4 linked regions of the Homo sapiens genome follow. The protein of the gene in region 2 interacts with the protein of the main gene of each other region in a pairwise test. Each region holds a gene or a part of one and is shown on either strand. Other genes may lie near its edges. The genes, in order: ROR2, FAM168B, NEDD9 and POM121.

Region 1 (7,026 bases), on a different chromosome or scaffold from region 2:
TTTAGAAGTAGTGGCAATTGCTAACATGATTTGCCCTAAAAATGTTCCTGGCCTGTATGTTTAAATTAGCAAGTGTGGGTTGCTTGGAATATACTTCTGCACTTTTAACTCAGCCAAACCGTGTGGGTCCAAAGCACTGTCCTCACTGCAACGCCAGGGCCTCCTGCCCCGGGCCTGCCACACTGGCGCAGATAGCCTCAGCGCCCCCACACTCACTCTGCTTGACTTCTCATTCTGTACTTCCTGACTCTTCTATCCTCTCTGAGCCACGTTTGGTCCAAAGGCACCCAGGCCTGATTGCAGCTGTTTTGGGGAAAGAGTCGCGGGTCATCAGTGGTAGGGATGCTGCAGTGAACACACACTTTGTCAGTCCTGGGTTTCCAGAGAACAAAGCCACGTCTTTGGGTACCTGGTTCAGGGTCTGAGAAAGTGGCAAGTCAATTAGGAACTGCAGCTGCTCATCCTTGGTCTCATTAGGACTTAACTTCTCTGATTGGCTGTCCCAGTTCCCAGCATACAACTCGAACACATTGATGGGGTCCGGGGTCCTTCTTAGGGGAAAGGCCTTGGAAAGGAAGAAAATTAATTAGACAATAGTCCTACAGAGCCCTCCTCCTGCTGTCTCTACTCTCTCCACAAACACATACACATTTTCTCTCCAGATCCCATAAGGAGCAAGACACATCCTGTGCAGATGGCCGGTGCCCCAGCACCTCAGTTTAGTTGGATCCTCTCCATGGGAGCGGGAGGCTCTGCTGCAGATTAGAGTCAGTGGGTGATCTCTGATGCCTGCGCTCCTGGGAGAGTGTGGTGGGGCAAAGGGGATACAGGGCACTGACCTGTTAAGGGGTGACAATGAGGATCCAAGGCAGAAAGTCACCTCATGTCACTGACAAGCCCTTCTAAGTTCAGGTCACCCTCGGACTAGAGAGTCGAACATCACATTCACGGTCACAGAAGAGACTGCCTGGCCCATGTGCTGGTACAGAGACCTCTGAGGACAGGGCCAGGGGGTCCTGTGCAAACTGAAAGAGCCATCATGAGACAGAGAGGAACCTGGAGATGCCATCCTGTTCCAGCGGGAGATGGTTTTGAAAATATGGCTACCTCTCACTGCAAAAGCTTTCTTTGCCATTAAAGTAGGACTTCTCAAAGGTTTTTACCGAAACACACAGTGGAAAATAGAGAATATACTTTACGCCATGACTTAGTGTACACATACATGTATTTCACACAACTGACATAGGTTACAGGGAATAACTTTCACCCTTCGTAAAAGCGGTGCACTTGGATTTTTCTTTTCAGTTTTATTTCATTAAATAAAAAAGTGGCCGGGCACGGTGGCTCACGCCTGTAATCCTAGCACTTTCGGAGGCTGAGGCGGGCAAATCACGAGGTCAGGAGTTCAAGACCAGCCTGACCAACATGGTGAAACCCCATCTCTACTAAAAACACAAAAAATTAGCTGGGCATGGTGGCGGGTGCCTGTAATCCCAGCTACTTGGGAGGCTGAGGCAGAAGAATCACTTAAACCCGAGAGGTGGAAGTTGCAGATCGCGCCACTGCACTCCAGCCCCAGAGACAGAGCAAGACTCTGTCTCAAAAAAAAAAAAAAAAAAAAAAAAAAAAAAAAAAAAAGTTAGAGCCCTTAGTAGGAACCGTGCATTCTGACATCCTCTAGTCTGTTCTTACCATCTTTTAAAATGCTAGCTGCAGACTCTCAGAATTAATTAGACACCCTACTAATTGGCAAGCACTGATCCAGGGCACAAGATTGTCCCTCAGTTATCTCTTCAGGAGTTGTTTAAGGAATCAGCTTGCATCCAAGCAGCCTGGTTTTATAGCATCTTTTAGAGAAGAGTTTAGAATGAAGATTTTCTAGGTGGGTGGCTTTTTGAAAACAGTAAATTTGAAGTTGCTCTCAACAGACTTGTGGTTTTGAAATAAGCATAGTAATGACTGCGTTGTGTGCAGTGTTGTGTTGGAAAGTGTTGTGTGACATTCAGGGTGTGGACAGATAACAGGATGTGAGTTGTTGGATCTCTTTGTGCCTAGAATTGCACTTTCAGAAATAAGCAGTACATTCTCAGGGTGAGGAGAAGGAGAAAGAGAAATCCTATAAAGATCAGCAGAGACATCCTATCAGTGGATTAGCCCAAGAGAAGTGACAGCTTTGGCATTCTTAGACAATCTTTCCCTGCCTGGAGGTCAAGGCCTACCTACATTTTTGACAGCCATCCATATAATCCCAAATCTGTAATGATGGGATTGAACAGGGTTGAAGCCTCAGTTCTTCCTCCAAATCCAAGACATCCTGTACTGTAACTGCTTGCCCTCTCTGTTCCTCCATTTAAATATCGGCCACAGGAACCCAGAGGAGGGGAGGTGATGTGATGAGCACAGTAGTGCCTGCACACAATCAGGACAGCGTGGCTGCTCCCGCCCACTGACGCCGCCTTTTACCAGACCCCTGGGCCCATTCACGCTGAGGGCCACTTTATAGGCTCTGTGTGCACTCTCATTCCCCAGTGTGGGGTCTCAAATCACTCTTCAGGTACAGAAACAGGCCCGGAAAGGCATGAGTGATACCACAAAGTGATCACGCACAAGGCTGTTCCCACACAGCTGCCCATCCCGTTCCTGGGTGGGTTCCCAGGGAATGACTGACAGCGGCACTGCCACCTGCTGGCCAAACCTGGCACAGCACTTACACGCTTTCCTTGCCTGGAGGTCAAGGCCAGCATTCTTGACAGCCCTCTGTATAATCACCAAATAATCGCCAAATCTGTAATGATGGGATTGAACTGCATTCGTGGGTGGAGTTAGGGCTCCTCAGGGACTAAATGCCAGCTTCTGGGTTTTCTGCCACGCTGGAGGACACAGCCTCTGCTGGGTGTGCAGGCAAAGGGGCCTGTCTGCCTCCACTGTCCCCAAGCTCAATTGTTGTAAGCCAGCCTTTCACAGGTGAAAATGGGGTAGTGAGCCCAGGGCAGGCTGATGCATTCCTTAGAGCCCTGCCTTGGCCAGCTTCTTCACCCTTACCAGTGTCCAGCCATGCACCCCAGGTGCAGCAGATCTCTCCCCAACACCCCCACTTTGTTCCCGAACTCACCCCATCTTCTAACCACCAAACTGCATCCTCTGACATCTTGCCCTTAAAAAACAAACCGCCCTACCAAAGGGGGCTCTGGATCTTCGGGTTTTTCTGCTCCCCCTTATCACAGAACCTTCCAGAGTTGTAACGCGGCTCTCCTCCCACTTTGCTGCTCTCACCCTCTTGGCTTTCCGCATTTTACCAACTGTCTCCTCCAGCTGCAGTTCACAGAGCTGAGCTGACTCCCTCTTCCGGGACAGCCTTCTCCCCAGACAGATCTGGGACATTGGGAAGCCTGGGGCTCGGTACTGCACTTCTTGGCCTGCGCTCTCCACACATGGCGGGTCCTTAGGATCTGCTTTTGCATCTGAAGTCTGAACCCTCTTGTCCTGGAAGAAGCACCTAGCGGAGTGAGCTAGGGGGCCGAGTTTTCCTTCTTTCTTGTTCTGCTTCTGATGTTTCTAAGTGAGGCCCTGGGACCAGGGACTTTTCTGTGACTGCTGCAAATCAGAGCAGGTGATGGGCAGGCTGGCCTGCTGGTGGGGAGCCTCTCCAGGGTGGTGTGCGGGGCTCGGGGTTGGGGAGTCTGGGGCGGGGCGGGGCATCAGGGGGCTGAGTGGGCAGTCTGGGATGCCAGGCTGGGGGTGGGGACTGGATGAATGTCAAGGGCGCAAGGTGGGTCCCCCGCTAACGCGAGTCTCGCGGGCTCTGCAGCGGCCTTCACCATGATCGGCACGTCTACGCACCTGTCGGACCAGTGCTCACAGTTCGCCATCCCATCCTTCTGCCACTTCGTGTTTCCTCTGTGCGACGCGCGCTCCCGGACACCCAAGCCGCGTGAGCTGTGCCGCGACGAGTGCGAGGTGCTGGAGAGCGACCTGTGCCGCCAGGAGTACACCATCGCCCGCTCCAACCCGCTCATCCTCATGCGGCTTCAGCTGCCCAAGTGTGAGGCGCTGCCCATGCCTGAGAGCCCCGACGCTGCCAACTGCATGCGCATTGGCATCCCAGCCGAGAGGCTGGGCCGCTGTGAGTGCCCGAGGGCCCGGGGCGGGACCGGGGGGCGCAGGGAGTGTAGGGCCCTTGAAATGTGTATGGGGGTGTCGGTGAAGCCCAGGGAGCCCCATCTGTCCAGGCCCCACAGAACCCCCTTAGCAGCCGAGGGCCCCACAGCCTAGGCCTCCATTCCAGCAGGGCAGCAGGCGGGGCCTCGGATCAGGGGCTTTGGAGCCATTCAGCCCCAGGCTCGCATGTGGGCTTGCACTGTGTCCAGCTGTGGGACTCAGGTGAAGTCCCTCCACCTGCTTGAGCCTGGGATTTCCCTTCTCTGAAATGGGAGTGATCTCACTTCCTGTGGAAATGGCTGTTGCGGGCATGAGAGGAGACAGGGCCAGCTTCCTAACTTGCCCGACGGTCAGCACGCACTCGGGCCGCCAGGCGAAAATGCAGACTCTCAACTCCTGCCCCAACCTCCTGAAACCTGGAGGATCAGTCCCCAGAAACCTGTAGGATCCTTAGCCTTGGATGAATGTGAGGCCCACGGAGATGCTGCAGGACTGGCCTGGGAGGGCACCTGAGAAGAACCTGTAACAATCAGGCATCACTAGGGAAGGAAATACAGGGAAGCACCGTGCACCTTTCTACAGGTCCCTGAATCGTGGGGCCTAAGGGATGAGCGTGGGGGAGGGGGACAGTTCTGAGCCCGGGGCCTGGGTGTGGCCTGTTTGGGGTCTGCACAGGACGAAGAGCATGCTCCCCACTGCCCCTCTTGCTGGCAGCAGCCCCTGCCCTCTGGAGGCTTAGTAAACCCCAAGTTGTGAGCCCCAGCAGGGTGGCCATGGCCAGTCAGGATGGCAGACACAGGACAGGGAGCGCTGCTTATGTCTCCGAGGAAAACCATTGGCTGACATCACTGCATCCATACGGGTTGTTGCCTCCCTGAGGAGTGAGACCTAGGGAACGGGCCACCTCCGCCACAGCTCCGGGGCTGTATTTAGCATCGTTGGCTAATCTGGGGGTCCAGGAATGGCCAGGACTCCTTACCAGGACCAGCCAGGGCCTGGTCCTTGGGCCCGTTGCCTGCATTCAGACCCTCATTGTGACCCTGGACAAGTTGCTAAGCTCTCATATCCTTATATTCCGTGGGGATGACACCAGTACTAACCCGTGGGGCTGAAATGAAGGTCAAATGAGGCAATATTTAGGAAGGTGGTTTTTTTGTTTGTTTTGTTTTTTTGAGACAGAGTCTCACTCTGTCACTGAGGCTGGAGTGCAGTGGCATAATCTTGGCTCACTGCAACCTCCACCTCTCAGGTTCGAGCGATTCCCCTGCCTCAGCCTCCTGAGTAGCTGGGACTACAGGCGTGCGTTACCACATCTGGCTAATTTTTGTATTTTTAGCAGGGACGGAGTTTCACCATGTTGGCCAGGCTGGTCTTGAACTCCTGACCTCAAGTGATCCACCCGCCTTGTTAGCCACGGTGCCCCAGCCAGGAGGGTTTAGAGCAGCGCCCCACACATGGTAAACACTACAGAAATGTTCACCAAATGCACACCCCAACCCCAGGGTTCCTCCATGGAGGTGGCGTGGCCTGCACTGTTCTCACCCATGGCTGAGCAGGGTGTCCTGAGATGGAGGGGCCAGGCCCTTCTTGCTTGCACAGTTGGCTTTCTTCCTAGAGCAAGTTGATCCTGAGGCTGGGGAGACATCCCCATTCTGGTGGGGTGGTGGTGTGCAGGTGCCTCGTGGGTCCCAAGAGATGGTTCTGGGGCTGTGGAATAACTTTAGACAAGTTTCCTTCCCCATGCCTATCCCTGATGTGCCCTGCATTTAATTTGTGGGCTTGGGACTTCATTAAGCCATTACTTTTAATGCCTCTTTTCTGGTAAGTTATGTAAAATCCTTGGATCTTTTGGAAATTCTAGTTTGGGCATGTGTAGGCAGAATGGTTTTGTTGTACCCCGGAGGTTTTCCTAACGTGTTTTCCTTGTTCAGACCATCAGTGCTATAACGGCTCAGGCATGGATTACAGAGGAACGGCAAGCACCACCAAGTCAGGCCACCAGTGCCAGCCGTGGGCCCTGCAGCACCCCCACAGCCACCACCTGTCCAGCACAGACTTCCCTGAGCTTGGAGGGGGGCACGCCTACTGCCGGAACCCCGGAGGCCAGATGGAGGGCCCCTGGTGCTTTACGCAGAATAAAAACGTACGCATGGAACTGTGTGACGTACCCTCGTGTAGTATGTATTCTCTCTCTCTTTTTTTAATGTGTTGATTGTTGAGTGAACCTTGTGATGAGGGCGTTCTGTCCTGACCTGGGTTGGGGTGTGCCTCTGTACGGTGGCGACCAGAGACCCCTGATCTTACCACAGTGACCATTTTAAATAAAGCTGTTGGGCCACGCGTAGTGGCTGATGCCTATAATCCCAGCACTTTGGGAGGCCGAGGTGGGCAGATCACTTGAGGTCAGGAGTTCAAGACCAGCCTGGTCAACATGGTGAAACCCCATAAAAATACAAAAATTAGCCAGGTGCGGTGGCACATGCCTGTAATCCCAGCTACTCAAGAGACTGAGGCAGGAGAATCACTTGAGCCTGGGAAGCGGAGGTTGCAGTGAGCCAAGATTGTGACACTGCACTCCAGCATGGACAGCAGAGTGAGACCCTGTCTCAAAAATAAATAAATAAATAACGCAAGTTATTGGTTGTTATGAAAGTAACATCTGACCATTACAAGACATTTTAAAATATAGAAAAGTCTGAAGAGTAATGTCAGATCACCCCTAATGTTACCACCCAGTAGTGACTTGTTTGCGTTTTGGCCCACCCCCTTCCATCAGCCCTTTTCCCATGTATGGATGGTCCTGGGATATTCACTTTGACATTTTGTTTCTCCATTAACATTATCTCCCAGTGCGGTGGCTCACAACCT
Region 2 (7,026 bases):
GAAAATCTTTGTGAAGTTAGGTTACACAGGTTTCTTTCTCTTTTGTTTTTTTTTTTGGGGACGGAGTCCTGCTCTGTCGCTCAGGCTGGAGTGCAGTGGCGCAATCTCGGCTCACTGCAAGCTCCGCCTTCCAGGTTCTGGCCATTCTCCTGCCTCAGCCTCTGGAGTAGCTGGGACTACAGGAGCCCGCCACCATGACCAGCTAATTTTTTGTATTTTTAGTAGAGAGGGGGTTTCACCGCGTTAGCCAGGATGGTCTCGATCTCCTGACCTCATGATCCACCCACCCCGGCCTCCCAAAGTGCTGGGACGACAGGCGTGAGCCACTGCGCCCAGCCAAGTTACACAGGTTTATTAAGTATGGTACCAAAAGCATGATCCATAAAACGACTAACCCTCATCAAACTTTTTTTTTTTTGGTTGAGACGGAGTCTCACCCTGTCGCCCAGGCTGGAATGCTATGGCACGATCTCGGCTCACTGCAACCTCTGTCTCCTGGGTTCAAGTGATTCTCCTGCCTCAGCCTCCCTAGTAGCCGGGATTACCGGAGTGCGCCTCCAAGCCCAGCTAATTTTTGTATTTTTAGTAGAGACGGGGTTTCACCACGTTGGCCAGGCTGGTCTCGAACTCCTGACCTCATGATCCACCCGCCTCAGCCTCCCAAATTGCTGGGATTACAGACGTGAGCCACCGCGCCCAGCCTAAACTTTTAAAACCCCTGCTCTTTAAAAGACGTTGTTAAAAGAATGAAAAAGCCACAGACTGGGAGAAAACACGCATATATCTGATAAGAACTCTCAAAAACTCAACGATAAGAAAACAATAACTGACATACAGTAAAAGCAAATTCTTCACCAAAGACATACAGAAGGCAAATACGCACATGAAAAGATACTGCTACACATTCACTAGAATGGCTAGAATTAAAAAGACTGACCACACCAAGTGTTGTTAAGGATGTGGAGGAACGACAACTCACAAACACTGCTGGTAGGAATGTAAAATGGTACCACCACTTTGGAAGACAGTTTGGCAGTTTCTCACAAAGTTAAATATACACTTGCCATAATAACCAGCCACTCAAATCCTCTGTATTTATTTACTCAAGAGAAATCAAAGTGTATGTTCACACAATAACCTGCATATAAATATTAATAGCATTTTCATTTGTAATAGCCCAAAATTGCAAATAACCCAAATGTTCATCACATGGTAAATGGATAAGCAAACTGAAGTATTTATTTCCATACAACAAAATACTACCTAACAATAAAAAGGAATGAACTGCTAATATACACTACGAGATGGATGGTTCTTTCAAGGCAAAACACAAAAGGAAAACCACTCTAAAGGGAAAAAATGGGCCAATATGGCAAACAGCTAGGGACTGAAAGTCGAGACTCTAGGCATAACTGTGTCTCACAGTCATGGGAAACCACTGAGAAAAATTCATCTGGGAGCATCGCTCTGGTTTAAATGGGAAGAACACTAACCCGGGGAAAGAAAGCTTGGGAGCAGGAAGACCAAGTCAAGAACGTTTTTCTCAGGGTGTGAACTACGGTCTGAACAAGGGTGGTCATATAGGGTCATAGTGGAAGTGGAAATGGAAACGAAGAGATGGATGTAAGGACAGAATATAAAGGCAGAATTTTATGATTAACAAAACAGGAAGAATCTGGGGAAAGGACACTGCTGTTGTCTCCTCCTCTGTCAAAGTTAACTGTGTGAAGCTACTGTTGAGGGATAAAGTTGCCCCAGCAGTCCCAGGATTAAGGCCAAACCACAGCCTCAGATCAGAGTGTGCACCACCACTGCTGCGGCAGAAAGGCAAAGCCCCGTGTGGGTGAAAAAAGTCCAAAAGGAACCAACACCAGAGAGTGCAGGCTCCTAGCAGGAAATCCCACTAAATAACCAATCTCCTCAAGATTCAGACCCAAACCAATTCCACTTTTAATATTAACAGTGATTTCCAAAATCTAAAAATATTCATCTATACATTACATGGAAAATAATACTTTTTTAAAAAATATTATCAGAGTGCTAAAGTAGTCTAACCAAAAATTATCTCTAAAAACATTAACATGGAAATTCCACCTGTTGGCATGGCAAGAAATTCTTCAATTTCTAGTAGGTGATACTATTTCATGAACAGATGCTCTGGCAGAGTTAACAACCTAGTGATTACAGATTTGCCTTGTGGGAGGACATGAGAAACACAGTATATAAAGCTTCAGTGCAGTAAGAATTAAGCTTTTGTTGCACTTATCAACAGGCTAACTTAATGAACTTGAGAAATCGACTCAACCAAGTCCTAATTCTATACCCACCCCTCTCAAAATCCACCCCTTCACCTTTCTCTCCCAGCTGTACGTACAAAGCATTTTACCACCCAGCACATACCTGTTTGGAAGGTAGGATTCGCTCCAGGATACATGTTAGGAGAATAGGCAGGAGCTGCTGCTGCATAGCCCATGGGAAAACCAGCTGAAGAAAAATAAAGAACAATCTCATGTCATCAACTGAAGTAGCGACAATCACTAGAGCTCCTGCAAAGCCATCGCTCTTACCTTCTTCCCCAGAACTCCACAGACTTAAGCAGCCCCAAGAGCACTATGTGTGGCCAACAGCATGTCTCTAGTTGTCTTCTTCCCGCAGAACTTTGTTTTTTTTATCGTTGTCGTCTTTTGAGACAGAGTTTCACTTTCATCGCCCAGGCTGGAGTGCAATGGCATGATCTTGGCTCACTGCAACCTCTGCCTCCCAGGTTCAAGCGATTCTCCTGCCTCAGCCTTCCGAAGAGCTGGGATTACAGGTGTGTGTCACCACACCTGGCTAATTTTTCTATTTTTAGTAGAGACGGGGTTTCATCACGTTAGCCAGGCTGGTCTTGAACTCCTGATTTCAGTTGATCCACCCGCCTCGGCCTCCCAAAGTGCTGGGATTATAGGTGTGAGCCACCACGCCTGGCTTTCCCTCAGAATTTTGATAGGTAACAATTATATATTTTATTTTTATTTATTTTTTGGAGGGGGACAGAGTTTCACTCTTGTTGCCCAGGCTAGAGTGCAGTGGCGCGACCTCGGCTCACTGCAACCTCCGTTTCAAGCGATTCTCCTGCCTCAGCCTTCCGAGTAGCTGGGATTACAGGCATCTACCACCACGCCCAGCTAATTTTTGTATTTTTAGTAGAGACAAGGTTTCACCATGGTGACCAGGCTGGTCTCGAACTCCTGACCTCATGATCCACCCACCTCAGCCTCCCGAAGTGCTGGGATTACAGGCATAAGCCACCGCGCCAAGCCTCAATTATAACATTTCTGGAAGTTTCATTCCAAACTCTAATCACATAATTACTTAGCAAGAGTAGTAAGAGTGCTAAGGGTATCACACGCTAGGTCCTGTTACCCTCATCTGACTTCACTGCACAAAGTCTGGAAGAATCAGAATTCAAGTCTAGCTTGGACTCAAGGGCCTATTTTTGCTGCTACCAGTGAACAGCTAAGCCTATGTAAAGGTCACTCATTTTCACTGAATTCCGACATTTCCTACATTACATATTTTGACTTAAAAGCTATTATTTTTTGTTGTAAGAAACTGTTTTAAACTTCTAAATTCATTTCAGGTTTTTTCACATTCTGATGTTCTTTTTTTTTTCTAAGACAGAGTCTTGCTCTGTTGCCTACGCTGGAGTGCAGTGGTGAGATCTCGGCTCACTGCAACCTCCGCCTCCTGGGTTCAAGCATTTCTCCTGCCTCAGTCTCCCTAGTAGCTGGGACTACAGGCGTGCACCACCACGCCCAGCTAATTTTTGTATTTTTAGTAGAGATGGGGTTTTGCCATGCTGGCCAGGCTGGTCTCGAACTCCTGACCTCAGGTGATCCACCTGCCTCGGCCTCCCAAAGTGCGGGTATTACCGGCATGAGTTACCACGCCTTGCCATATTTTGATGTTCTGATCCCCAACTTCTCCAGCATGACCAGCTAATATGTTTTCATATGTCCTCTCCAAAGCTCACGTTAAAATTTGTCATTTTAACAGCACTGAGAGGTGGGACATTTAATAGGTGACGGCTTTATTATGAAAGTGGGTTCCTGATAAAAAGGACAAGTTCAGCCCCCTTTCTCTCTGACGCACTCGCTGCCCTTCCACCATCCATCACAAGAGGATAGAGCCCAAAAGCCCTCACGAGATGCCATCGCCATGCTCTTGGACTTCCCTAACCTCCAGAACCAAGAGCCTAATAAATTTCTGTTCATTATCCAGCTTGATATTCTGCTAAAGCAGCAGAAAACAAATTAAGACACCAGTCATAAACCCAGGCTGTGTCTTACTTAAGCTTCAGTCTTCTTACAGAAGGAGCTCTAACTGGGAATGCATACACACAGAAATGGGAAAAATCCAACTACAGTCCACGTGCAAATAAGCTGACCTTTATTAATACAAATGAGGAATCTTATTAAGACTAAACCATGACCTAGTAATTCATAATATGAACGAAACAGAAACATCAAATAAGACATTGAGTGCTACAGTCAGAATCCTGGCCCCAAGGTGCAACCAACAGAGGGGGCCTCAGGCATCTGCCCTTTTCGATAAGGCCTCCCTTCCCTTTGGGCTGACCCCTCTGGCTCACAGTACAGGAGGCATCACTTGTGACAGCTGAGGTATTAGAAAGTATTCTCTCTTTTTTTTTGAGACAGAGTCTCGCTCTGTTGCCAGGCTGGAGTGCAATGGCGTGATCTCGGCTCACTGCAACCTCTACCTCCCTGGTTCAAGCGATTCTCCTGCCTCATCCTCCCAAGTAGCTGGGATTTCGGGCACACGCCACCATGTCCAGCTAATGTTTGTATTTTTAGTAGAGACGGGGTTTCACCATGTTGGCCAGGATGGTCTCCATCTCCTGACCTCATAATCCGCCCTCCTCGGCCTCCCAAAGTGCTGGGATTACAGGTGTGAGCCACTGCACCTGGCCAGAAAGCGTTCTTTCTATTTGGGGCACACAGCCAACAAGATGACTCAGGTTTCCTAGCCTTGATTACTGTTCCCACTAGCTGTGAGAAGCTGTAACTTCTCTACTGCACACTTCCTTCACCTGTAAATAAAGTTGAAAGAGAAGAGCAGTCTTCAAAAGAAACTGTGTTGAGGAGGCCTGGAGAAAGGTGTCTCTTACAGCACTTGGACTGGGATTTTTAAGGTGTTACGATCCCTTAGGAACAAATCATGGTGCTAACAGTAACCAAAGCAAGGAAGCCCTAAGGTTGAGGTAAAAACAGGGGGGATCTGAGTGGAATGCCAAAAGGAAAATCTTTGTAGGTGGGACAGAAAGTTCTGAATACAGCTCCTCACGTGCCTCCCTTCGGCCCCCTCAGCCTGGATCCCTTGCTCTATTGCCCTGCATCCCTAAGCCATCTTGCAGGTTTCTGTGGGAACAGGAGGCATCAGTGTCACCAAGCCCTAGCCCCAGAATCCCTCCAAGTGCCCAGTTCTCATCTTTATCCTTGCTTCAAAGTTGCTTTCCTCACTTCAAACTGATCCCCCTCTACCTCAGCAGAAGCCATTCCGGGTTTCCCTCCTGGACTCTCACCCTCCCGTTTGCCCTCTCTAATTAGTCAGAGAACAGAGTGTGGTGGACGTCAAGGGCAGATTCAACTTCAAAGAGACCCACAATGGCCACTGGAAAGACCAGGACAGCAGTTCTGGGGATGCTGAGAGACTCCTCAGAAGCCCAATTGTGAGCACAGGAAGACCAAGAAAGGTCTGGAACTGCCCTCAGAGACCAGGGAACCAGCAAGATTTTTTTTTCCAATGGTTTCCTTCTTTTAAAAAAAAAAAAAAAGTTTCAACTACCACTGACCTAGATCATATCCTGTAGGCCTCTGCAATAATTTCCAGAAATTCCAAATTCCTCATCTCTCCCTAAAACTCTACCAATATATTCTCATGGGAAGAGGGCTGCTCTGGATTTGTTTGCTGAAGATTGTGTTTAACGGTCCCTGAAAAACTACTGTCTTCTTTGCTTAGTCCTTCCCATCCCCACTTTCTTTCTTTTTTTTTTTTTGAGACGGAGTCTTGCTCTGTCGCCCAGGCTGGAATGCAGTGGCGTGATCTCGGCTTACTGCAAGCTCCGCCTCCTGGGTTCACGCCATTCTCCTACCTCAGCCTCCTGAGTGGCTAGGACTACAGGGGCCCGTGCCCGGCTAATTTTTTGTATTTTTAGTAGAGACAGGGTTTCACCATGTTAGCCAGGATGGTCTCGATCTACATACCTCGTGATCCGCCCACCCCGGCCTCCCAAAGTGCTGGGATTACAGGCACGAGCCACCGCGCCCGGCCCCCCAGTTTCTAACAAGAAGTTAACACATCCTATAATGAAACAGCAAACACACACGATAGTATTTAAGATGGCATCACTAGCCACCAGCAACAAGATGCACTACATACCTGGTCTCTGGTATGGGGATCAAAGACTCCCAATCTCCTAGACAGCCTCTGCTGCTTCCGTGCTCCCATCGCCTCATCCCATCAGCCACATCCCACTTGCTCTGTCACCACTCTGACCCAAGCCGCAGCGTGGCTCCCCTCACTATCTCCAATGGTTTCTACCTGGACTGCACAAAACCCACAGGGGCAGCTTTGGGAGGACCCCCAACACTGCTTTAGCTGGTCTCGGGTGCACCAGCCTCTTTTTTCTCATTCTCTCCAGACAGTGAATCTGCAGGGTTCCAAGCAATGGAGTTAAGAATCACTGTTTCTTCCTATTCCTGATCTTTCTGGGTACCCCAACCCCCAGCAGACACAGAGACCGTCTCCTTCAGCATCTATTCTAGCCCTCTTCTGGCATGGTAGGCTGGAAAGGCCAGACTCCCTACATCAAGGCACCAGAGCGATCCCAAACCTGAATCATTTCTACAAGACTGATCACCTTGGCCGGGCGCAGTGGCTCACGCCTGTAATCCCAGCACTTTGGGAGGCCGAGGCAGGTGGATCACGAGGTCAGGAGATTGAGACCACGATGAAACCCCATCT
Region 3 (7,026 bases), on a different chromosome or scaffold from region 2:
TGATGAGGTACATATTGTAGAGAGAGAAGCCAGAGAAATACTTTAAAGTTGCCTTAGAGATGGTTTGATGGGTTTTACATTTGACTTGAATGAAACTCTGCGCTTCTTAGTATTTTGTGGTATTCACTGAAACAAACTGGGGCTAGGCCTGTAAGAGGAAGTTGCTTTTTGGTTAGGACCTGTTACATTAAGCTCAATATCAGTAATGATAAAATTATGGCAGTCAGTTCTATGGGGGTATTTTTGAGTAGGGCAGTTATTTTTAAGGAGAAGGAGTAGAAGAGATTAGACCACTGCTTCTCAACTAGGAGGATTTTTGTCCCCTCTGGGTACGGGCAATGTTTAGTGGCATTTTTTGGTTGTCACTGTGTGTGTGTGTGCATGTGCACATGCATGCACACGTGTGTTACTGGCATCTAGTGGGTAGAGTGGCCAGGGATGTTGCTAAACATCCTACAGTGTACAGGACAGCCCCCACCACAAAGAATGACCTGGCCCTAAGTGTCAATAGTGCCAAGGTTGAGAAACCCTGGATAGAGGAATGGACACCAGACTGAATTAGGAGGGTCTAGCTTCAGACTTCACATTTGAAGACTAATGACCATCAAATCTCTGCCTTTTGTGCCTCTGTTTCCCTGTCTGCAAAATAAATATTAATAGACATGTTCTTCTTTATAAAAATATGAGGAATCATGAGATTATTTACTCCAAATGCTCTGATTTCTTCAGGAAAAAGAGTCTCTATAAAATCAAAGCACAGTTATTATTACTGCGCCAAGATGAGCTCATGAAATTGTGTCTTAAGAACTGTACTCCTCCCCTTGGAAAAAAAAACTTCCTCTAGGAAAAAAAAACCAACAAAACAAAAAACCCAGAAATGATCTTATCATGATTACACCTGCCACACCAAAAAACAGACACACTTCAGAGAAATGAAATTCTTTCCCTTCAGCAATGAACTAAGCTGAGTCTGTAATTAAGATCTTAATAAGGGAGGCAGGAGGCTTGATTCAGGTGCTGCGGGCTATGAGGCGAGAGCGCCCATGCCAGGTTTAAAGCAAGAACAATTGGATGCAAATCCCCCGCACTGCTTAACACTCTCAGGTGTTCCAAACAAGTTCTTATTTCAAAATGGGCATGGCTTTATTTCTAAAGATGCCTATTTCTGCAAAGAAAAGGAAAGAGAGCACCTTGTTATTTACAAGTCAATGAAAAAAAAAGCACAACATCTTAGACAGTTTCCTGCAAAAGGCTGCTGTAAGGGAGATGGGATAATGCCTTCGACAGTGGATTAATCTCAGGAGCAGCCCTTGATGACAGTCTCTAGAGTGACCATGTGCTTCCGGACTCTCCCAGGCAGTCCCCAGGTTCAAATATCCTTCCCTTTGTCAGACCATATGTCCCATTTTTTTGGTTTGTAAAACATGGATACATACTCACAAAAAAGAAATATTTTTGAAACCAACAACAAAGGATGGGAATGTAAGTATATTTCTTGATTATGGATCTGCCATGGCTGAATTTCGGATTTGGGAGAAAAAGAGCTAGGCACTGATAAGAATCTTAAATTCAATCAACGTTATGTGTTCTCTAATTGACAAGGTGATGTCTGTAAGGAAATGAGATCGATTCCAGTGCCTCTGGGCCTCTGTGAGATAGCCTAGAAGTCCAGCTCCACAGTGACAGGGGTTATCAAGAGAAAGGAGGCTGTCGGGCTGCGTTCATTTCTGCTATTCCCTTCCTTGAACCCATTTAAAGGTGTGCTTGTCATGCTGGGCTCTGAGTGGAGAGGGTCAGGGAAGCGGAGATAGCACTGGACTTCTGCCCCAGGGGAGCATGCAAGGGAAAGAGGGCTCAACATTTTGCTAGGCCAATGCTGCTGTGGTAGTGCGACTGTACCACAGGTCCACGAACCCATTTCCTGCCAAACTCTCAGTCATGCCACAGTGACTAGTAACAAGAACGAAAGAACAAAAGGAAAAGAAAAAAAAAATCTCATCGACAGATGACTGATGTGTCCTGACACTGAAGACTCAGAAGTAGCTGGAGTGTCTAGAAGTCCACTTACTGCCATTTTCTGTGTGCTGGCTTTGCCTGTTATGGTTATTTTGGGAGGCGGAGGGTGTTGGGGGGCAGAAAAGCCCAGCTCATTCTTAAAGAGTCCTCTAGATGAGTCCTCAGTTAGCCTCATCTCCTGTGGGAGTGAGGCATTAAATTAAGGAAAACAAGTGGACTGTCATGAATCACTGAGATTAAGGCTAACTCATAGTTACCAAGAGATAGCACAGTGTTTCTGCCTGACCAATAAAACCTAGGAAAAACATGAATGACATATACTATCTAAATGCACAATGCCTTAAGAAGTAGACAGGAGATCTGGTTCAAATCTGAACTTTACACGTGTTTTGGTTACTGCAACTTTCTACTGGGTTTCACAGATAATTAATCCATCCACCGCCCCCCTGCCCCCCAACCACACATACACACAGTAAAAAAAGGAATTCAAATTAATTTCAAAAGGGCTATCAAATATTTTTGTTGCTTGAAATGGTTTCACTTTTACATATTTGTTGCTAAATCTTTGTTTCCTGTGGGCATAAACATAACATTTCATGTGAGGGACATTTTTAGTAACATCATATAACTATTACCTTGATATGTTAGACATATCAGGGGGAATTCTAATTCGCAAGACTGAGATTTGCAAAGAAACATGACACTTACAAATCACTGGATCCAGCCTTTGAATAAGGATCATGAACTACCTACTTAGACACCGTGTAAGCACCAGAAGCACTAGTAGTGGTTAGTGAGGGGATTAGGGAGAAAGAGACTAGCTGTTTTGTTTGTTTGTTTATTTGTTTGTTTGTTTTGTTTTTGAGACAGTCTCACTCTGTCGCCCAGGCTGGAGTGCAGTGGTGCAATCTCGGCTCACTGCAAGCTCCGCCTCCCGGGTTCAAGCCATTCTCCTGCCTTAGCCTCCCAAGTAGCTGGGATTACAGGTGACCACCACCATGCCCAGCTAATTTTTTGTATTTTTAGTAGAGACGGGGTTTCACCGTGTTAGCCATGATGGTCTGGATCTCCTGACCTCGTGATCCGCCTGCCTCGGCCTCCCAAAGTGCTGGGATTACAGGTGTGAGCCACCGCGCCCGGCCTTTTTTTTTTTTTTTTTTTAAAGAATAACTGGGATTTAATAGTCCATTGTGGGGCCCAGGAATATGTATTGGAAAACATTCCACTGGCAACTTTAATATCTCCATGACAGCTGCCTCCACTCCCTACGTCAACCATGAAAAACTGCTGTCAGCTCCACCACTATCCATATTTCTGGAGTGCCCGTTCTATCTTCCTCAAATTCACCTAGATCTCATTGTTTGGTCAAACTGTCTTCAAAGAGAGTCACCCTTTCCAATGAAGGGTACAAAAGGTTACCAACAAGGTGACTTATCTTAAAATGCAGATTGTTCAGGAAAATAATCCTTTGCAGGCTGTCATGTTCCCTAGCTGTGTGGAATCCTCATTAGCCAGCAGGAATTACTGCAGAGAGATGGCTGGAATGTTCAAAGTAAATAAGATGGAGGGGGGTGTTGTTGGCAAAGTATAAACAGGGTTTTTTTTTGTGTGTGTGTGTCCCCTTTTCATGCCCGTACTCTTTGCAACCATCTATCACCTAGGAAACCGTCAGTTACTCTCTGGCATTTTAAGTTAGAAATATAGTATTTCTTCCCAATGGCCCTGTTTCATTTGTCTTGGCGAGAAGTCCTGGTAATTCAGCCTATATGTTCTTGCAGAGTATTGCCTTGGTCCTAGTGGTTGGCATTTCAAACCAATTTGTTCAGATTTCTTTCTGACCCTAAAATGATCTAAACATAGACAACCAAGACCTCTTACTTTACATTTATGTCATTCTAATTGACTGCAATTGGATAAGAGAGTTCACCCTGAACTTCTCATGTACTCCCAACTTACATTCTTTGGATTTTATCTTTGGTTTTTTGAATTGACGACTTTCTCTTCCTCACTGATATTTCTGTTATGGGTAAACAATTCTAGTGAATGTCTCCTTTAAACACTTTTATCTATATAAAAATTCCATATCTATATATCTGTATATCTTTGTGGGTATGTGTATATAACATCATATAATAGCTGCCATTTATTAAATGCCTAATATCTGCTAGAAAGGACAATTGTCATATATTATATCCTATAACTATCTGACAAGACAGGTATTATTCTCATTTGATAAATGAGGAAAAGAAGGTTTAAAGTAGCTAGCATAAAACTATACTGTTAGAAAGTAACAAAAGTGGGATCTGAAACAAAGCCCATGTTTTTTGTTGTTGTTGTTGTTTTTTTACTATGCCATATAGTATTAAGATCCTCTTAAATGGCTATTTGTGTATACATTTTGTCTTCTATGAGCAAAGTCTTGTAATTTCAGGAATACTGAGTCCAATGAACAATAATGAAGGAATCAAGTCATTAGTATATTAGCAAGTGGGGTCATATGCTGTTAGGGCCCTATGCTTACAATACACATCCAGGCCCACAGAATACTCAACAATATTCAACCATCTCAACCTAGTAACTGGGATTTTGACATAATTCTGTCACCAAGTCTTGAGTACATACCATCCTTTCAACATCTATTGAGCATCTACCATACAAAGAGAGCTGGAGCCAGCTTGCATTGTCTGCTTACTATATGCCAAGAGCCATAGTAAGTACTTCATTCATATATTATCCCAGGTCTTCGAATAGTATGAGGCAGTTATTCTTATCCCTATTTTACAGACAATGCTGTAAAATGAGGCTTAGAGAGCTTAACTTGCCTAAGGTCCAGAGCTATAAGCCATAAGGAACAGAAATGCCTTTCTTCAAAGCCCATGCTCTATCATGTCTCTAACACAAGAGCATAAAACACCAAGTCTTGGCCCCCTCAAAACTTCACAGACCCTAGATCATGTTTTTTATTCAAGGACTTTTCGATCAATCTGCCTCTACATACAAATAGAGGGTGGGTCTCTCATATTCAGTGGGGTTTACTTAAAACTAAACAGGCCCAGTAGGCAACCTATCTGAGTTACAGGTATCCTTTAGATAACGATTTGATTGAAAGAGGTCAATAAGTAAGGTAGTGCTAACAGAGTAGGGCAGAGGTGAAAAGCATAACAGCCTATTTTAGGGATTATAGGATGGTCCAGGAGACACAGGTTTCAGAGTTTGATTGTTTAAACAGAGTGGATGGATGAGGAGACTTTACTAGCGGGACTGACAGGCCACTCAAGTCATGTAAACGCAAACAGAGAGGCAGATGAATGGGGGCAGTGAGGGACCAAGATTTCCCATAGCAGAGTCTAAGGAGAAGGAAAAATGAGGGCTACAGAATGTGCATTAAAAGTGTCACATCTGTGTGTGGGAGGCAAGGGGGCGGCAGTAGATAGGTGCGGGTGGGGGGCTGGGGAGTAGGGGGTTGGAAGTAAGATCTACGGAAGTCAGTATTAAAGAAGCGTAAGGAAAGCCTGAAAAGAAGAAGAAGAAGATAAAAGGAGAACCAATGAGGTCATAAAAGCACGAAAGTGGGAGAGAATTTGCAAAAAGGCCGGGTGCGGTGGCTCACACCTGTAATCCCAGCACTTTGGGAGGCTGAGGCAGGTGGATCACCTGAGGTCAAGAGTTCGAGACCAGCCTGACCAACACAGTGAAACCCATCTCTACTAAAAATACAAAACTTATCCAGGCATGGTGGTGGGCACCTGTAATCCCAGCTACTCAGGAGGCCGAGACAGGAGAATCACTTGAACCCAGGAGGCAGAGGTCGCAGTGAGCTGAGGTGGCACCACTGCACTCCAGCCTGGGCGACAGAGTGAGACTTGATCTCAAAAAAAGAAAAAAAGAAAAGTGGAGAGGAAGGTGTTTTTTTCAGAAGACTGGAGTGAAGGGAGAGACAGGGAACCACTGAATTCTGAGAACAGGGACTGACGTGTATCCCAGCAAGGAAAGGATGCTAAAGGAATCCTTGGCATGTTACGCACTGTACAACTTGCTAAATTTGGTATTATCAGGCACCTTCAGTACTCTAAAGGCTTTTATCTCTGTGTAGGTAAGCCATTTAGCTCTGCAAATGGGTTTACTAAATAAATAAATAAATGCATAAATACATAAATAACCAAGTTGATATTTTTCAAAGCATGTTTTAGTGATTTTAAATCCATAGATCTCATACAAGGTTTAAAAAGGAAAAGGACAGGAGTCCTACATTTGGATTGGTTGCAAAAATCATACAGAGAAAAATAAAGCATTTTAAACCAAAATATCAAAGCAAGGAAATAATTGGGAATTTAATAGCTTATGCATGACCATATTGACTAAATTAAAGATCCTCTGTCATTATTTTCCTCGGTCTTGCTTGAGGAAATACGAATACTTTCAAAGTCCTTTCCAAAGCGTTTCACGGCACACAGGTTCTCCTTTCCCTGACCTACCCCATTCAACCAGAACACAGGACTCTGACTTTCAGAATGCACCTTTCTTAATGGCATTGTAAGTTCCGTCTGTAATTTTTCTTCAGTCAAAACGTTAAAGAATGAATTTGTTGCATGGTAGACGAGATAAATAATTTAGAATTTTAATGTAGGCACGTAAGGGCTCAGAAATTTGGCAAAGCCACAAAAGCGTCTCTGCTCAGCCATTAGCAGCCAGGCCAAGGGGCCGCTGAGCCCCCGCCCGGGCTGGGCCTGAGGTGGGCGGGGCCTCGGGCCTGGCAGGCACAAACGGGGTGGGGTCTCGGGGGCTTCTGCTCAAACACAGCTGCGCAGAGACCCTTCCATCACCCTCCTGGGAAACAGCACAACCATACACCTCCAGACCCTCAGGAGGGAGCCTTCACTGGGTAAGCAAACCAAGGCCATCGAGGCAATCACCTAACCCCGCCAGCCCCCGCCCAATTAAGAACATGCTCTGTATATGAAGGGGATTTTGTAGAAAATTCTTAATAAATGAAGCCCCCGTAATTTACTA
Region 4 (7,026 bases), on a different chromosome or scaffold from region 2:
CATCCAAAGTAATCAGTAGATGAAAGGCAATCCCAATCAGTATCTCAGAACTTTTTTTTTTTTTTGTGGAAATTGACAAGTTGATCTAAAAATTATATGAAAATGCAAAAGGCCAAGATACAAGACAGTCCTGAAGAGAAATGAGAAAGTGGGATGACTGACTCTATCAAGACTTAAAGTATAAGGCTAGGGGTAAAACAAAGACTGGCACAAGGGTAGGTAGAAAAATAGACCAATGGAACAAAACAGAGTCTAGAAATGGACCCACATATATACAGACACTTAAATTAGACAAAGACGGTGCTGCAGAGAAATAAGGATGGTCCTTTCAATAAATGTTGCTAAGAGAAATGGGTATTTCTACAGTAAAAAACAACAACAACAACAACAAAAACCACCAACACCACCAAACACAAAAAAAACTAATTTTGATTCCAACCTCACACCATATACAAAAATTAATTTCAGGTGGTTTATGGATTTACATATAAAAGTAATAATAAAATAATAAAGCTTCTAGAAGGTAGCACAGAAGAAAATTATCATGACCTTAGGTTAGGTAGGCAAAGATTTCCTGAATACTACACAAAGTATGCTAACCACAAGGAAGTAGAATGGCAAGAGCAGGACACTTTTTTGTTGCAACACATACATGACAGACAGCTTGTATCTAGAACATATAAAGAGCGTATTCAAATCTCTAAGAAAAAGACAACAACTTGGGGCCAGGTGTGGTGGCTCACGCCTGTAATCCCAGCACTTCGGGAGGCCAAGGCGGACGGATCACCTGAGGTCACGAGTTCGAGACCATCCTAGCCAACATGGTGAAAACCCATCTCTACTAAAAATACAAAAATTAGCCGGGCATGGTGGTGGGTGCCTGTAATCCCAGCTACTTGGGAGGCTGAGACTGGGGAATTGCTTGAACCCAGGAGGTGGAGGTTGCAGTGAGCCAAGGTCACAGCACTGCACTCCAGCCCGGGCGACAGTGCGAGACTCTGTCTCAAAAGAAAGAAAAAAAAAAAGACTGTACAGTAAAAAGTAAATTTCCTTTTTATCTCAGTAATGATTGCCAGTTTTTAATATATCCTGTAAGAATTATTTTATGCATATTAAAAGATTTTTAAAAGCCCGAATAATAGAGGATACTATACAGTTCTGAGCCTTGTTTTTATGTAATTGCTTTTTGAGATCATTCTCATGAGTACTTCTTCAGTTGCCTTATTCTTTTTCATAGTTACATAGTATATTCCAACTTACACCAATACTGTAAGTTATTCAGTCAGCTCCCTGAAAAGATAACATGTACATTGTTTCCAAGCTGCTATTATTAAAACAATGTTACATTAAATCCTTGTATCCATTTCCCAGTATGTGTGTAGGATAACTTCCTAAAGGTAAAGCTGCTTGATCAAAGGGTGCATGTATCTCTTATGTGGACAATTCCTGTCACAAAGCCCTCTAGAGAGCTGTACCAACTGACACTCCCACCAGCAACGCGTGAGGAGCCTGTTTCTTCTAACACTGCACTTCTATGGTTTCTATTTTACGTTCAAAACTTTGCTTCATTTGGAATAGGTTTCTCTACTATAGGAAAAACTCTTGAACATGAGATTTGGCTGGTAGCCCTTCAGAAAAATGGGTAAAGGATATGAACTAAGACTCATGGAAACAGAACTGAAAATAATCATTCAACATATGAACAGATGATCAAACTACTCATAAGAGACAAAAATTAGATACCTTTTTTTCTTTGAGACAGAATCTCACTCTGTCGTCCAGGCTGGAGGGCAGTGGCGTGAGCTCGGCTCACTTGACCTCTGCCTTTCAGGGTCAAGCAGTTCTCCTGCCTCAGCCTCCCAAGTAACTGGGATTACAGGCACACACGACCACGCCTGGCTAAATTTTTTGTATTTTTAGTAGCAACCGGTTTTTGCCACGTTGGCCAGGCTGGTCTCAAACTCCGGATTTCAGGTGATCCACCTGCCTCAGCCTCCCAAAGTGCTGGGATTACAGGTGTAAGCCACCAAGCTCGGCTGGCTTTTTTTTTTTTTTTGAGACAGAGTCTCACTCTGTCGCCCAGGCTGGAGTGGAGTGGCGCTATCTCTGCTCACTGCAACCCCTGCCTCCCAGGTTCCTGATATTCTCCTTCCTCAGCCTCCTGAGTAGCTGGGATTACAGGCATGTGCCACCATGCCCAGCTAATTTTTATGTTTTTAGTAGAGACAGGATTTCACCATGTTGGCTAGGATGATCTCGAACTCCTGACCTCCAGTGATCTGCCTTCCTCGGCCTCTCAAAGTGCTGGGATTACAGGCATGAGCTGCCACGCCTGTCTTAGATACTATTTTTAACCTGTGAAATTGGTAAAAGCCCAGAGCTACAATAACCAAATCTGCTGGTGAGGCCATGGAGAAATGGTCCCTCTCATACAACGCTGAGGGGAATGCTGAGTGGTGCATGCTCTGTAGGGGGATTTAACAATATCCAGCAAAATTACATGCGCATTTAACCTTTGACCTGGGAATCTGACTTCTAGGAACTTTCCAGAGGCAAAATTGCCAAGGATGAAATGACATATGAACAAATGTATTCTTTGCAGCATTATTTGTGATAGCAGAAGACTGAAACAACCCAACATTTGTCAACAGAGGACTAAAGTACCTATGCAGTTTTAAGACCAAAGATGAGTTTCTGTGTACTGCTATGGAATGACCTCAACTATCTATTATGTGAAAAAGCAAGGTTCAAATCTGTATATACTGTCTACTACCTTAAATGTTAGAAGGTGGCGGTTTTCAGATACACTGATATGCATACCGTTTAAAAAACAATAAAGGATAATCAAAAAATAAAAATGGAGAGGAAGGAAAAATGTAGAGTGGAAAGGGATGGAAACTGAATTTTTGAGTGTATCTTGTTTTAGTGTATTTTTTTTGAAACAACTTATTGTTTCAAAGATTTTACATAATTTAAAACAGAACTATTTCAAAAAGGAAAACACAGAAATCCCTGTAACTTTCAAACATACTGAACAAACGAACCTCACTGTATATAAAGTTGGTGTACCCAAAGGACAATTAACATTACTTTAAAACACGATATATTGATTACATGTCCGTAGCATTCACACAGGGATATAAAGACAAATGAATCACAATTCTTAAACTGACTTCAGCCGTCTTAATAATGACAGTGTTAACAATGACACTGATACCGCTATTTTGAAATTGCATGGGCCAGGCGTGGTGGCTCATGCCTGTAATCCCAGCACTTTGGGAGGCCAAGGTGGGTGGATCACCTGAGGTCACGAGTTCGATGCCAGCCTGGCCAACATGGTGAAATCTCGTCTCTACTAAAAATACAAAAATTAGCTGGGCATGGTGGCGGGCACCTATAGTCTCAACTACTTGGGAGGCTGAGGCAGGAGAATCGCTTGAACTCAGGAAGCGGAGATTGCAGTGAGTCAAGGTCGCACCACTGTGCTCCAGCCTGGGCGACAAGAGTAAGACTCCGGCAAAAAAAAAAAAAAAGAAATTGCGTGTTACTAGGATCAAAGTAATTATAAACCGACATTTTTGGTGTAATACATAAAAATATAAAATCAAATAAATTACATAAAAAATCCTACTATCATAAATTTGAATTTGGAATATTATGAATTATTTATATTCCCCTTTCTAGAGGATCTGTCTATCTTATCTCTCCTAAAACTTAGACTGTAGTCTCTACAGTTCTAACTGGAAGAAACCAAAGCTTTCTGAAGAAACACCCAACTTCGGTATAGGCTAAAAATGGACTTTGGGAAGGTGGGCAAAAAGCAATGAAGCTATCTGTCGAAGACTGCTGGGATCAAAATAAAGGATACAGGAGCCAGTTTGGAACCCATAGTCCAAAGCTGGAAAAGTTTGCATATCAAAAATAATAACTAGATATTAAATAATATTAATTATCCCTCTTAAATTATTAAGAGGGATAATGATATTACGGTCATTAATGTTCATTTATATGACTGTCAGAGCCTTCTGGGCTGATGAACTCGTCTCAAAATCTTCCTCCTCTCAAAAACATTTCTCCATACATGCTTTACATCTTTTTGTCTGGCTGCTGTATACTGGGTACCCACTTACTGACAGCCACTGTAATAGGTGCTTTTTAAATATTACCCTCAATCACTGCAACAGCACTTCAGAGATAAGAAAAAGAGATGTTATGTGATTGTCTGCCCAAGACCTTATAGCTACTAGATGTCAGAGCCAAGCATTTTTTTCCTTTTCTTTGAGACACAGTCTTGCTCTGTTGCACAGGCTAGTCTTGAACTCCTGGACTCAAGAGGTTCTCCCACCTTGACCTCCCAAAGTGATGGGATTACAGGCATGAGCCATCCCGCCCAGCCTCAGAGCCAAGATTTGAATCTAAGTCTGTCCAGCAGCAAAGCCTGCCCTGTTCCCTATACTATGCGATAATCCCTTTTCCAAAAAATCATGACCACTTGTTTAAAAACCCCGCTTTCAATTCTAAACGCCTATAAGATAAATCTCTTTTACGACCCAATACAAGCTGGACTCAGTCTACCTTTCGAATCACCCTCTGTCCGTTTATCTACAACACAGCTCTGTCTCGAATCAGCTCGCACACATGCACTGCTGTACATTCTGGGCTTTCTACTCCATTCCGCTGGCCTATATTGATCACTCAATGATCTGTATTTTCTATTAGCTTAAAGACAATTCTAATGTCTGACAGATAGAAGGTGATCAGTAAACCTTTGCTAATCAATTACTTTATTTAAAAAATTTTCTTTAAAAATTCTTTTGTACAGACAAGGTTTCACTATATTGCCCAGGCTGGTTTTGAACTCCTGGGCTCAAGCAATCCTCCCGCTTTGGCCTTCCAAAGTGCTGGGATTACATGGCTAAGCTACCATGTCTGGCCCTAGTCAATGAATGAACGCTGGGAATTCATGTCCCCCACATTAAAAGAGCTGTACTTGTACCTGTGAGATGCCTCGAGTGGAGCTGTAGGAACTGGTAATGGCATTGCGGCTGGAGCTAGGGATGCCACTTGCGTAAGCGCCTGTCAAGGAGCTCATGGAAGAGCTTCGGGATCTCTTATTCAAGTGGTCATCTGAGCTCTGAGAATTGAGGCCTCTCTTCAGAGACCCAGGCCTAATAAAAGAGAAGACAGTTAGATGCTTTATTGAAGGCAAAATTCTTTTACGATTTCATCCACGGTCATGACATCTTTCTTAATAACATGAAGGGAAGAGAATAATGCTTTTAATTTTTACTGCTAACAATCTGGCCAAATCTATCTGACAAAGTCAGTAAGAAAAGCCAAATATTTAAAACTTAAATGTATGATTTCCATTTATAGAATATTCTGGAAAATGCATACCTATCTACAGTGACAGAAGACAGATCAGTGGATGCCTGGGAACAGGGGTGGAAGTAAAGAGAGGGATTACAGGCATGTGGGAACTTTTGGAGGTGAAGGATGTTCATTATCTTAGTGGTGGGATGGTTCCACAGGTGTATGTGTGTCAAAATGTCACATGCTTTAAACAAGTACGGTCTATTTTATGTCAATTATATCTCAACAAAGCTATTAAAAAAAAATCAGAGTTAAGAGGAACCCATCATTTTACTAAACCTCCAATGGAAACAGAAATCTCCTACGCATCTTTTCTGTAGGACAGTCATCCAACCTGTTACAATATAGACAACTCTCTCCTAGAGTGACCCACGTCAACCATGAACCAGTTTATTCTTACAGTGGATTACAGTGTATTTCCTCTTTCACCCACGGATCCTATTTGAAGTCAAACAGAGCAAGTTATTTTGCTTCTTTCAAGGGACAGTCCTTTGGTTTTTTGGAGACCATTGTCCTTCCCTCACTTATTTCTTTATTCCCCCTGAGACTTTTCTCCTCTGGGCTAATACTTCCATACCTCCAAAACCCCAACATCCACCACCACCCCTTTGGGCTGTTGCAAATCTCCTTAACATCTTCATTGCTTCACTGGGAATGAATTTCCGTTTGTGTACATCCTCCCTCGCAGTGCAGTACACTGATCTGACCACAGTGCTCCACGGACAGTGAGCAGAACTACGGAAGGCAGGAATACCATCCACCTGCCTCATTCTAGTCTTTCTTCTAACAGCACAGACCAGGAGCACTTTAGCTTTCCTGGCGGCCACATCACACTGCTGACTCAGATGAGGTACCTAAGGTATCCTAAGTCTTTCCACACATACTTTTGAGCCACTTTCCTTTCCACCCAATTCTTCCTCCAATTTGTTTTTAAACTGACATGTAGAAATTTAACATTTAGGTTTCATACTGTTTTATCCACTGCACAAACTTTGCAATCCTTCTGTGTATGTGCTTGGTTATTAAATATATTTATAAAACCTCTTAAGTCTCAGCATATTTCATCCATATTAATGCAAGAACATTAAAAGGAATTAGACAGAAGGCAGTTAACTGTGGCAAGTTACTCAAAACGTTCCTAATTTCAAAGACGTGAACCTGAACCAATTAAGCAATGCAAAAAACAAAGAGGAAAATCTATAGGGCAACAGCTCTGATCAGGCCTTTTTCCAAACAGTTGGTATTTCATCCGGATGGACTCCCACTTACTTAGGCACAAAAGAAGCGGGGACTCCATTGGCCACCAGGGGCTCAAATGCTGAATGTCCACTGCCACTGCTATCATGGCGCCTGCGACAAATCAAAAAAGTCTCAATGAAATGACATGACTTTTTTTGTCCCTTTAAAGTGTATTCTCATATTTCTGGGACCTTATACTATCTCTATGGAGCACAGATTCCATGATAGACCAGAAAATGGTTGTTTAAAATCCCTAAGCTTCTGAAAGGTAAATTTTTTTTTTTTCAGACAGAGTTTCGCTCTTGTTGCCCAGGCTGGAGTGCAATAGCACGATCTTGGCTCACTGCAACAAACCTCTGCCTCCTGGGTTCAAGCGATTCTCCTGCCTCAGCCTCCAGAGTAGCTGGGACTACA

Evidence for each region.
Region 1: the proteins of FAM168B (region 2) and ROR2 interact in binary tests that used the Homo sapiens proteins (3 or more experiments, as listed by UniProt).
Region 3: the proteins of FAM168B (region 2) and NEDD9 interact in binary tests that used the Homo sapiens proteins (3 or more experiments, as listed by UniProt).
Region 4: the proteins of FAM168B (region 2) and POM121 interact in binary tests that used the Homo sapiens proteins (3 or more experiments, as listed by UniProt).

Annotation. Positions count from the first base shown.
Region 1 is NC_000009.12:91,730,219-91,737,244, reverse strand, and holds part of ROR2 (tyrosine-protein kinase transmembrane receptor ROR2 isoform 1 precursor), read left to right. Parts: intron 1-3,808; coding exon 3,809-4,123; intron 4,124-6,089; coding exon 6,090-6,335; intron 6,336-7,026. UniProt on the Homo sapiens protein: Tyrosine-protein kinase receptor which may be involved in the early formation of the chondrocytes. It seems to be required for cartilage and growth plate development. Phosphorylates YWHAB, leading to induction of osteogenesis and bone formation.
Region 2 is NC_000002.12:131,069,455-131,076,480, forward strand, and holds part of FAM168B (myelin-associated neurite-outgrowth inhibitor), read right to left. Parts: intron 6,916-7,026; exon of another isoform or gene 2,568-6,915; intron 2,485-2,567; coding exon 2,401-2,484; intron 1-2,400. UniProt on the Homo sapiens protein: Inhibitor of neuronal axonal outgrowth. Acts as a negative regulator of CDC42 and STAT3 and a positive regulator of STMN2. Positive regulator of CDC27.
Region 3 is NC_000006.12:11,222,643-11,229,668, forward strand, and holds part of NEDD9 (enhancer of filamentation 1), read right to left. Parts: intron 1-7,026. UniProt on the Homo sapiens protein: Scaffolding protein which plays a central coordinating role for tyrosine-kinase-based signaling related to cell adhesion. As a focal adhesion protein, plays a role in embryonic fibroblast migration.
Region 4 is NC_000007.14:72,928,082-72,935,107, reverse strand, and holds part of POM121 (nuclear envelope pore membrane protein POM 121), read right to left. Parts: intron 6,724-7,026; coding exon 6,643-6,723; intron 5,169-6,642; coding exon 4,997-5,168; intron 1-4,996. UniProt on the Homo sapiens protein: Essential component of the nuclear pore complex (NPC). The repeat-containing domain may be involved in anchoring components of the pore complex to the pore membrane. When overexpressed in cells induces the formation of cytoplasmic annulate lamellae (AL).